2 separate regions of the Homo sapiens genome follow, and region 2 is linked to region 1. Evidence: fine-mapped expression QTL. A gene starts in region 1. The other region holds a variant in brackets. All regions are shown on one strand. Distances are from middle to middle.

Region 1 (5,368 bases):
GCCCTGAGGGGATCCTTGGATCGCTGCCCAGCAGAGCTTCCAGACGGACACCACCTGCCAGTGTGAGCCAGTGGGACACTGGGCCTGGGTGAGCCTCCCAGTGATGCAGTGCCAGCTGCCTTCTGACTGTGGCAGCCTGAGACTCCCATGAGCACTCAGCCAAGCCCATGCCCCAATTCCCAATACACAAAATTGTGAGCAAAATTTAAATGGTTGTCTTAAGCGGCCAAATTTTAGGGCAGTTTGTTACCTAGCAACAGCAACTGGAACATCACCTCAGGGCCTTTGCAATGGTACCTGCTGGCTTCTGCTCCCTGGAGTCACATCTCTGCTCCAATGCCACCTCCCCCAGGCCTGCCCCGGCACCCTCCTTGCACCGGACACACTTTTCATCCTGGTACCCGCTGTGTTTTCTTCACAGCAGCATTCACCGCTCTATCTCTCTATCCTGATTTTCCGTGCTTCCAATCTGTAATGGAAATGCTGTGAGGGCAGACACTGCATGGGTCTCACCCTCTCCACCCAGGCCTCAGCACGGAGTGGGTGTTCTGTATCTGTCGAATGAATGAATGAATGCGAGTCCCTGGGAGAGGGCGTCTTCGCAGGGAAGCTCCCTAGGCCCCGGGCGTCTAGCCAGGCATCTGCACCCTCCCACCCCAAGACCCAAGACCATCTCTTCCTTTCTCCAGGGACCCCATTTCCAGGGACATCTCCGGATGAAGGGCTGAGATGTTATTCCCAACTTTGGCCACCAGGTGGCAGCATATAAGGGCAAAGCGCGCTGAGGATTCCAGGCTGGCAGTGAGGCCAGGGAATGCCGGTCTGGGGAAATTTGGAAGGCACCTTTGGATGCGAGTTAGGTCCGGCAGGGAATGCAGATGACCTGGAATCCCTGGGTCCTGGGCCAGTCTGGGGGTGGGCTAGAGGTTCCCCAAGGCCAGAAAAGTCATGATAAGAAGCTTCTAGCTTACTGTGAGTCTGGACTCCCACCCCTGTCCTTTGAGAACATCATCACCATTTAAAGCTGTATCTCAAAACCAGCAGAACTATTATTTGCTTAATATTCTTCCTTAAATAGATCTTCCACAACTTAAATAAATATAGTAGGGAGAAATTTTTATTTCACCACTTTAACAGAAACCAGCCACTTGCCAGAAACAGGCAGTAACCATAAACAAATTAATTACTAATATCAAATACTTACCTGGCACTCACTGAGTGCCAGACACTGTTGCAAACATTTCCTGTATCTCATTTAATCTTCACAGCACTGAGGTTTAGGATTATCCCCCCGTACAGGAAAATGGGAAACAGAGAGGTGCAGTTAATTTCCTAATCTCCCACAGCAGTAAGCGGCACCAGGTGGGTTTGGAGTCACCACATTTTTCAAGAACAGTTTAACAACTGGAGCTTCGAGTGTGGAATAATAGACACTGGAGACTTGGAAGGGTAGGAGAGTGAGCGAGGTGGGAGGGATGAGGAATTACTTAATGGGTACAATGGACATTATTTAGGTGATGGTTACACGGAAAGCCCAGACCTCACCACTGCATATCTCCATGTAACAAACCTGCACTTGTGTCCCTTACATTTATACAAAAAACTCCAAAAAAAACCTACAGTGTAATGTAGTACCCTATCCCATGCACTCACACTGCTAAATGTTGTTTCCAACGCACTCATCCGCGCACCCAGTGCCAGCTGCACCCTCCCGTTCCCTGCTAGCCTGACTTCTGGGCAGCAAGACCCTGCGGTTAGACGTGGGCTCCTGCCCACAGGGCTAGCTGGATGTGTGTGTCTTTCAAAGGCTGGACTTTACTCTCACCTCGCCCCCTCCACCCCCCAACACACACACACACACACACACACACACACACACACACAGTCCCTGGCAAGTCCTCAGAGCTCACGTGGTGCCCAGAGAAGTTGTGGGTGACACGATGAGGCACAAGCTCCATTCCCCGGGGGATGTAAGCTGAGACCCTACCTCTCTGTGCAAAGGCTAGTGCCACCTGCATGAGCTAGATTCAGGCAGGACCTGGAGACCCTGGAGGAAAGCAAGGCTGCAGGGTAGCCTTGGGTCGGGGAGGGAGGGACACTCTTAGGCCTCTTACTGAGGGCGGGGGTCCCGGAGAGCCATGGACAGGGCAACGCTCTACTAGGCTCCTTGGTTCATCCCAGATCAGCCCTTGGGCCCCTGGCATCTAAGGCAGCAAAAAGGCAAGGGGACACCGCCCGGGGTGGGGCACGCCACCGCGACAATGCCTCTTGGCCTTGGGTGGATAATGGCACCCCTGGGCAAACCCTAGGGGCGGGGCCCAGAGGCGAGGGGCTTCCCCAATCAGTCTCCGCCCTAGCGCCCTGGACTTCGGCCCCATTCCATTGGGTGAGGGTGGGGGCACGAAAAGAGGAGCGGGCTTGCGGCCCCACCGTGTCCCGCCTCCTCAGTCCCCAGCGACTCGCAGGGGCTGGTGGGGCTGGGGTCCAGCTGCCGTGCTCCCCTGCCCTGCGCCGCGCCGCGCGTCTTGGTAGGCGCTGCGCTGCCGGGGCCGGGTCCTGGGCCAGTGCAACTCCGCCCCCAGCCGTATCCAGCGGACTGTCCTCCGCCGCGCGCCCGGCACAGCATGGGGAGGCGCTGCTGCCGGCGGCGCGTGCTGGCGGCCGCCTGTCTGGGCGCCGCGCTCCTGCTCCTATGCGCCGCGCCCCGCTCCCTGCGCCCGGGTGAGTGCCCGCCGGCCGAGCCGCGCACCCCCAACCAAACCTGGCTCCTCGCGCTTTCCACCGCGGCCTGACCCCTCGACAGCGCGGGGGACACCTGTTGTCTCCTTCCTGGCTGGGGCTAGGGGTGGCGGGCAGGGGCGCTGGTGAGGCACAGAAAGGCTCTAGACGCCCCCGCGAGCAAAGGCTCTTGCTCCTCCTCCGGAGTTACCTCCCCACTCCCAGAGCGGTGACTGTTTTGAGTCCCACAGCCGGTGCCTGGAGACCGGGGTCAGTTGTGGGGGGTAGAGGACAATTGGCCAATCCGGGAAGGCCATCTCCCTTACCTTCACCCCCTTCCCCTGCGCACCCCACGGCCCCTGGACATGAGCGCTGCTGGGCGCATGCGCATAGGAGGGGAAGCTTGGGCCACTCGGTCCGGTCCCTTGGTTGTCCTACTGTGCAGTGGGTGCCACTCCCTGCTCCACCCTGAAATCCACACTGGGTAGGGCTTGGGACTCCTGTGCACCCACTCGTGGTCTGGCTGGGGAAACTGAGGCAGTTAGTCATGACTCCGCAGAGCTGAGTGCCCTGGGCTCCACCGGTGCTGAGTCTTTGCTCTGAGTCTCTCCTCAGCTCATGTGAAGCCTCCCATCAACCCATTTCACACAATCTGAAGCGGGCCAGAGAGTGGGGAGACAGGTGTGGTGGCAACGTGCTGGCTATACAATCTACTTGGGACTGGAGGGGCCCAGCCAGCGCCCGGGTCTCCTGACCTCAGGGCTGTTTGCCTTTCCTTGTATGTGGTATGCGTGCTGGGTGGGACGACTCAGTCCGCCTCCCCACCCCCAGTGTGGGCTCTGAGAATCCTGGGCCCCACCCTTGGAACCTGGCAGACACAGTCCCAGGGAGTAAGTAACTAGGTCCAGGGTGGGCGGGGATGTTGGGCAGTGGGGGTGGGAGTGGCCCAAGACTTGAGGATATCAGGGCCTGGGGAGGCCTCTGCCCACTCCCCCTGACCCTCACACTGCCCCTTGCCCCTTGTGTGTCCAGACACAGCAGGTCAGACCTGGATGCCTCCCCAAGCCCATGGGATAGGGCTGGGGTGTCTCTTTCCAGCACCCCCACAACCCCTTCTGTGAGCTGTCTGGTGGTGTTGAGCAGACAATCTCCTGGCAGTCTGGGGTGTGGACTCAGTGTCTGTGGCTGCCACAGCCTCTGTCCACCGAGTCATTCAGTAGACAGATGTTTACCCAGTACTAAGACAGGGCAGAACTTGGTGGCTACTGGCCCCTCAGGGCTCAGCGTGGGATGTTAGAGGACACCTGAGTGCCTGGGTCCCGGGGAGTGTCTGCAAAGGAGCATACATCTTTGAGTGACTGCATGGAGTGTCTGCGTCCCCATGTCTCCGTGGGACACCTCTCTCCTGTCACCTACTCTACCCAGGTTTGAGGGATGAGAAACAAACCAAGGTACTAGTCACCTTCTGGGCTTTGTTCCTTCTGACCTCCCTCCCTCTCCTGCAGAGCCTGGGAAGAGACAGCAGGTGTTAGGAGGACGGCTCCGAACCTCCCTTCCCAGCCTCTGCGCAGGCTGGGCTCTCCACCTGGCCTGTCCTGCTCTTGGCCATGACCTCACCCAGCATCTCAGCATCTCTCTCTGTTTCTGTCAAGCGCTCTTGTACCTCTCCCATGGCCTGTCTCCAGCCATCACAGCTTTGTGAGTGACCTTGGGCGAGCAAGAGTTAATCAGACCAACCTATCCAGCCTCTCACACTGGCTTTTCTCTCTCCCAAGCCCTGAGCTGAAGCTTTGGCTGAGACTATGCTTGTGGGCCTGCAGGTGGCACACAGGGAGGGCACTCAGCTGGGAAAGGCCTTTTCCTGCCAGGCTAGTCCTGCTGGAGGGGCATCCCCTGCCCTTGGCCTCTGGAAATGGCCTCACGAGGGCCTGCAGTGTCTCTGCAGCCATGCCTGAGTTGGAAGGGATGTGGTCTGTGCCCTGTGAGGGCTTCTGGCCTGGGGATGAGGGCTCCAGAACTCAGGAGGGATTTCAGCCCCTTCTCCCAGGAGGGCAGGCCCAGCACTGTCCCCTCCTTCTCCAGAGCAAGAGGCCCAGCACTGTCCCCTCCTTCTCCAGAGCCAGAGGTGCTGCCGTAAGTTGGGCAAGGGGCCACTGAAGGGCTACTGGCTCAGGCCTGGGGCTCTTGCTACCCCAGGGAGCTCAGAGACATTCTAGTAGGGGGAGGTCTGCGGCAGCCCCTCCACAGCCACAGCCTCAGCCCCAGGGCTCCACCACCTGCACTGGCCTACTGCTTAGGGTCCCAGGGAGGAGGAGATTCCAGGAAGGTGGGGCAGCTGCCCAGAGCACTGCTGCCCTCATCACCCCACCCTCATCCCCAGTGCCCAGCGGCAGCTCCCAATGGCAGACCCCTGGGTCTCCTGCGGCCCCCTTGGCTCCCTCTGTGTTTTTGCCTGGGCATGGTGACCATGCTTCCCGTGGCTGGCACACCACGGACCACGGACCTGTTGGTTGTCTGCTCGTGCAGGTACTGGGAGACAGTGGGGAACAAAACTTAGAAATACCCCTGCCTCGAGGAGCTTACATTTTTAATATGAAAACCCAAGATCTCAGCTCTATGTCTTCTGCCTCTGAGACACCGGCGGGAGCAG
Region 2 (5,368 bases), 22 kb after region 1:
GTGTGTATGTGTATGTGTGAATGTGTGAGTGTGGGTGTGTCTTGGGCCACTTGTCTCTGAGCTCCCCCAGGGCTGTGTCCAGAGGCCCTGCCAGCAGGAATGGGGTGGCCAACTCCAGTGGACCTGGGAAGGGGCTGCAGCTGCCACTGGTTTCCCCATGAGGCCTCCCCCAGCCTGGGCCCTTCCCCCACTGGAGGGACATACAAAGCCCAGGGCCTTGCACCATTTCCAGCGTTCCCTGGGTGCTATGGTTTGAATATTTGTCCCCTCCAAAACTCATGTTGAAATTTAATCCACAATGTGGCAGTCTTGAGAGATGACCCAACCATTAAGACGTGACTGGGTCATGAGAGCTCTTCCCTCACGGATCAATTAATCCATTGGTAGTTTACTGGATTGATGGGTTGATGGATTAATGAGTCACCATGGGAGTGGGACCGGTGGCTTTATAAGAAGAGTAAATCAGACCTGAGGTAGTGTACTCAGCCCCCTCACCACGTGATGCTCTGTACCACCTCCGGACTGTCCAGAGCCCCTGTCAGCAAGAAGGCCCTCACCAGATGCAGTCCCTAACGCTGGGACTTTTCAGCCTCCATAACTGTAAAAAGTAAATTTCTTTTCTTTATAAATTACCCAGTTTCAGGAGCTCTGTTACAAGTAACAGAAAAGGGACTAAGGTACTGGGCCAGAGCCCCACTGTTTAGAGACAGGCTGAGGAGGGAAGGATGGGGCCTTGGCCACACTGGGGCCACTGTCTTTGTGAGGGGCTCCCTGGCCCTCACATGCTCCCTTAGAGGCCACACATGCTGTGTTCTAGGCCACTGTGTGTGCAATTGTTGCACACCCATTTTGATGACACATGCCTTTGTTCCCAGCTCACTCAGCTCCCACACAGCCCCCGATGGGACCTGTTTGCTGAAACTGACACCCATCTGGATGTCTCACTCCCAGGTGTCTCACAATTAGATGTGCCCTGCCTCCTGCTGTCATGCCCTCAGCACCTGGACATGCTGGCAGTTATCACACTCACAGTCCCTTGTGTGGGCAGCTACTCCACTGCTTCCCCACTGATGCCCCCATGTGTACATGCTGCAGGCACCCAGTGTCACCCAGACGCTGTGCCCACCACATGCAGCTCTGTACCCTCTGCTGTATGTGCAGGGCCACAGCCCAGGCCCTCGAGGACTGAGGGCGCTGGGGCAGCTCTGGAGGCTGTCCTTGGGGAACTCCACCTGCTCTGGCCTGCTGTGGCCTGTTTCCTCTCTGGCTGGTGCCAGAACGTCTGTGTCCTCACAGATCACAGGCTGACCACCCTGTGGGATCCCAGCTGGATCACTAGAGGATACAAGAAAGACAGGGTCACATGTGCAGAGCTGGACAACACAGGGGGGTGCCCAGGTGATTCTCCATCTGGCACCTCCTTCAGGCAAGTGATTGTTAAAACCATAGTCCAGTGCCCACAAGGGCTGATGGCACAAACCCAAGGTCACGCGGCATTTTAACTTCCTTGAAATTGTCTTTTACTTCCCAGGTTTTCAGTCTCTTAAAGTTGGATAGTGCTGGCAGGACACCTCCCAGGATGGGGTGCCATTGCTGGTTTGGGTTACAGACTTCTTTAAAATAAGTGTAAGTGCTCTTTTGCTTTTTTCTGGCTTTCATTGTCAGGAAAATGTTAACCAACTTTCTGCAGTTATGGGGTAGGGCTTGTTTTTCTTTTCAGTTTTATTCTGTGGCTTTGTCATTCAGGCAGCTTCCTGAGAGGGATGTTTCCAATGCTTAAAATTTAAAATAAATCCCTGGTTTCTCACAAACAGCGAGATGTAATGCATTATTGTTTTGGAAGCACAGCCGAATGCATCTGTGGGCTTCAGCAACGAGTAAGACAGTAGCAGGGTGAAGGCAAGGCCCAGGGCTGCTGCATGCAGCTCCAAATGTGTGTCACCAGCACACTCCAAGGGGTCAGTGGGCCCAGATCTCAGGATGCCACCTTTCCCCATCATGCTGTGGCTCCTGCATGAAGATAAAGGTGCGGCTGCCTGGGACAAAGGCTTGATGACAGTCGTTTAAGGTGTTTTCTGTTATCCAGAGGAAGGGGGCTGAGGGCTGGTGGGACAGATGCTCCAATGGGCCACTTGGAGCCCAGGACCCTTCTCTTTTGTTGCTCCCTAGTCCCTAGGGCCTGGCCCTTTTCCATGAGAGTGAGCCATTCACTTTTCAAGTATCCCAATGTCAAAGGGAAAAGAAGGGCACCCAAGCTGGCTTTAAAGACACAAACTGGACAGTCCATTCCATTTCCAGTGCAATGCCATTGGCCTGAACCTAGCCCACTGTATTCCCAGTGGCAAGGGAGTCTGGGAACTGACAGCCAGTTTTAGGTCGGGTGCCTCAATGCGCTCCCTAGCATCTGCAACCCTCCCGCAGTCTCCCTCTGACCACCAGGCCTCTTGGCCTGGGCACAAGAAGGCTGGGTGTGCAGGAGTTAGTGCCCCCTGGAAGCAGTCCTCACCTACATCTGTTGGAAGTCGGGCGATAAATGCTCCAGCTTTTATCCCTGCATGAAGGACATTGAGACACAATCTGCATGGTGCCCCAGATTTCCCCACGGGGACTGGGCACCAAATGCCCTCAGTGGCTGCTGTGGACTGAATTATGTTCTCCCCAGTCTTATGTGGAAGCCCTCACCCACAATGTGATGCTATTTGGCGATGGGGCCTTTGGGAGGTGATCAGGTTGAGATGAGGTCATGAGGATGCGGTCTCCATGGTGGGATTAGTGTCCTCATAAGCAGAGCCACTGGAGAGTTCTCTCTCTCTCCCTCCCCGCCTCTCCCTCTCACACAGGGAGAAAGCAGCCATCTACAAGCCCAGAAGAGAGAAGAGAGCCCCCATCAGGGAACCAAGGCAGCTAGCACTTTCACCTTGGACGTCCAGCCTTCCTTGGAACTGGGAGAAAATGAACATTGTTTAACTCCCCCCAGCCTGTGGTGTTTGCTACGGTGGTCCCAGCAGACTAAGCCGTGGTTGCCAGCTCAAGGGTACATTCCTTGTCTGGTTCCGTCCCTTCCCTGTCTCCTCCCTACTTCTCTATGGGCTAACTGGGATTGCCTCTCACAAAAAC[T/C]ACTCACACTCCATCCTTGCCTCCAGAGCTGGTTCTGCGGGACTGAGGCAAAGAGGGAATCAACCATAAATCCATGATGACATGCTGCTTTTGTTCCACTGGTCTTAAATGCTAGGTTAGTTTGGATCCTTTTCTGTGGCAGTGCCGACATGAATGTTGTTGCATACCCTCCTCCTGCATAGGTGTGAGTGTGACTGCAGGATAAACTCCTGGGAGAGGGTCCACACTCCCCAATGCACCTCCACCGTGCCTCATCCTTTCTACCTGTGGATCTGTGTTTGACTGTAACTGCTCACAGCTTAAGGGCACATGGGGACCCAGATGGCCTCAGAGATGCAGGGCACAGGGCCCATGTTGCTATCTGGGCCACTGTGTGAGCATTTCTAAAGTTTATGGAGTAGCTGTGCTTAGAGAGTATTGCTGCACCATCTCTCTCCTGTCAAACATTTCAGCTGTCACCCGCTCCTCTGCAAGGGCTTCCATGCGGTGCAGCTTCCTGGGGGCTCATTTTCTTCTTTGCAGGAATAACATGCACATAAACCTAAACTCAGTGCACAAGGCAGGGGCTGCAAACACATCCCAGCTGCCCTCAGATTCTTCCTTTAAACGCCCAGGAGAGGAGGCACGAATTACAGACCATGTATGTTTTTATAATTGACTCTGGATTCAGGTAATGAGTTACCAACTTTTTCTACAAACCACCACCAGCTTTGCTATCATGAGTGGAAGAGCAGGCAGCCAGCGACCCCTCCTGCTCCAGTCCCAAAAGCTCTGGGCCCTGCCTATAGTGCAGGTGTGGACCAGAGGGAACCTGGAGAGGCTGGGAACTCTCTGGAAATTGTTCTGGCAAGAGCTGATAAAGGAGGTGCTCAGGAGCCCTCCAACCAACCAACCAGCAAATCCTATCATGGGTTGGGGAGGGGAGACAGTACACCCCAGGGGACAGGGACAGGAATGCCTAGAGCAGCAGCACCCACAGTAGCACAAAGTGGAAACAACCCAGACATCTACCCAAAAGAGAATGGACACATCATGGAATGAGAAACAGTGGAAAATGAAGGAACTACAGCAGTAGCATCATCATCACATGACTCTTAGCAACTTGCTGTGGAGGGGAAAAAGTTGCAGAGTTTGACACAGTCTTATATAATTGAAAAAAGCAAACAATGTGTTATTTCAAGGAGTGCAGTGGTGCGATCTCAGCTCACTGCAACCTCCACCTCTTGGGTTCAAGCCATTCTCCTGCCTCAGCCTCCTGAGTAGCTGGCATCACAGGCGTATGCCACCATGCCCAGCTAATTTTTGTATTTTTAGTAGAGACGGGGTTTCACCATGTTGCCCAGGCTGGTCTCGAACTCCTGGGCTCAAGTGATCCACCTGCCTTCAGCCTCCCAAAGTGTTGGGATTACAGTCGTAAGCCACCATGTCTGGCCAAATTATAACATTTTTTAAGTGGGGAGAAAGATGTGGTGACCTGATGGGCAGGGTACGAGGGACTCAGGGTGTGGTGAAGTGGGGGAAGGAGCACCCAGCAGGGATAAGAGTGGGTCTCGTGTCCCTGGTTATGCTGCATGGTAAACATGCGTTGCTGTATTTTGCTTATATCAAACAGTGCATAGCTTAAACCTCAGAGACAACCTCCTCGAAGCTTATACAGTCCAAATGAAGATCAGCCTGGCTCCCACCCTCACAGGAAGGGACCCCAGGGATCTTTGCTTCCTGCAGGTCTGTGGGTGCTGCTGGAAGCTGTACTCTATCCCCAGGCAAATGCTGTGAGTCCCCTGCCTGGACCTGGGGTCCCACCTGGGGAGGGAGCCTGGAGTCTTGGCTGGGGCGGCACAGTGCAGCCCGGTCACCCTTCCCCAAACACCACAGATGTGACTCCAGGGTCTGCTTCGTGCAGGTTGGGAACCCACCCCTGTCCTGCCCCCAGGGCCTGGGAAGCCAACCCCCTTCAATCTTTTCATCACAAGGGTCCTCACTTCACTTCCTTTCTGAGACAATAAAGCCACTTGCCCACCTGGGGAGAAGACAATAAAGCCACATCCCACTCCAGGGAGAAGGCTGCAAAGTGTCCTGATTTTATTCACCCTCCCAAGGAACTCCAAGGTGACTTTCTAGCCCCTGTATTTGTAGAACACAGTGGGGGGACCCTTAAATCTTCAGCAGGCACCCCGCTGCCCAGTGCTGCTGTCTTGCTTTACAAAGGCATCACCAGCCTCCAGCAGCCACACCACGCTCCTTACATTAC

What was found. PIP is the estimated chance that this variant, and not a neighbour inherited with it, causes the effect.
Region 2: its variant is the best candidate, but not a certain one, in a credible set for the expression of CHST13 in tibial nerve (GTEx, PIP 0.74).

What each region holds. Positions count from the first base shown.
Region 1 is chr3:126,521,709-126,527,076 of GRCh38, forward strand. CHST13 (carbohydrate sulfotransferase 13) reads left to right here and starts at 2,447. Exons shown (of 3, transcript NM_152889.3): 1 at 2,447-2,721. The coding sequence starts at 2,625. It also overlaps a transcript of C3orf22 not described here. RefSeq lists enhancers at 1,771-2,271, 2,272-2,772, 2,833-3,333, 3,334-3,834.
Region 2 is chr3:126,543,746-126,549,113 of GRCh38, forward strand. It overlaps a transcript of C3orf22 not described here. Among named protein-coding and RNA genes, the nearest start is that of C3orf22, 13 kb to the right of the region's middle. RefSeq lists an enhancer at 5,327-5,368. The variant T/C (reference allele first, on the strand shown) is at 3,118.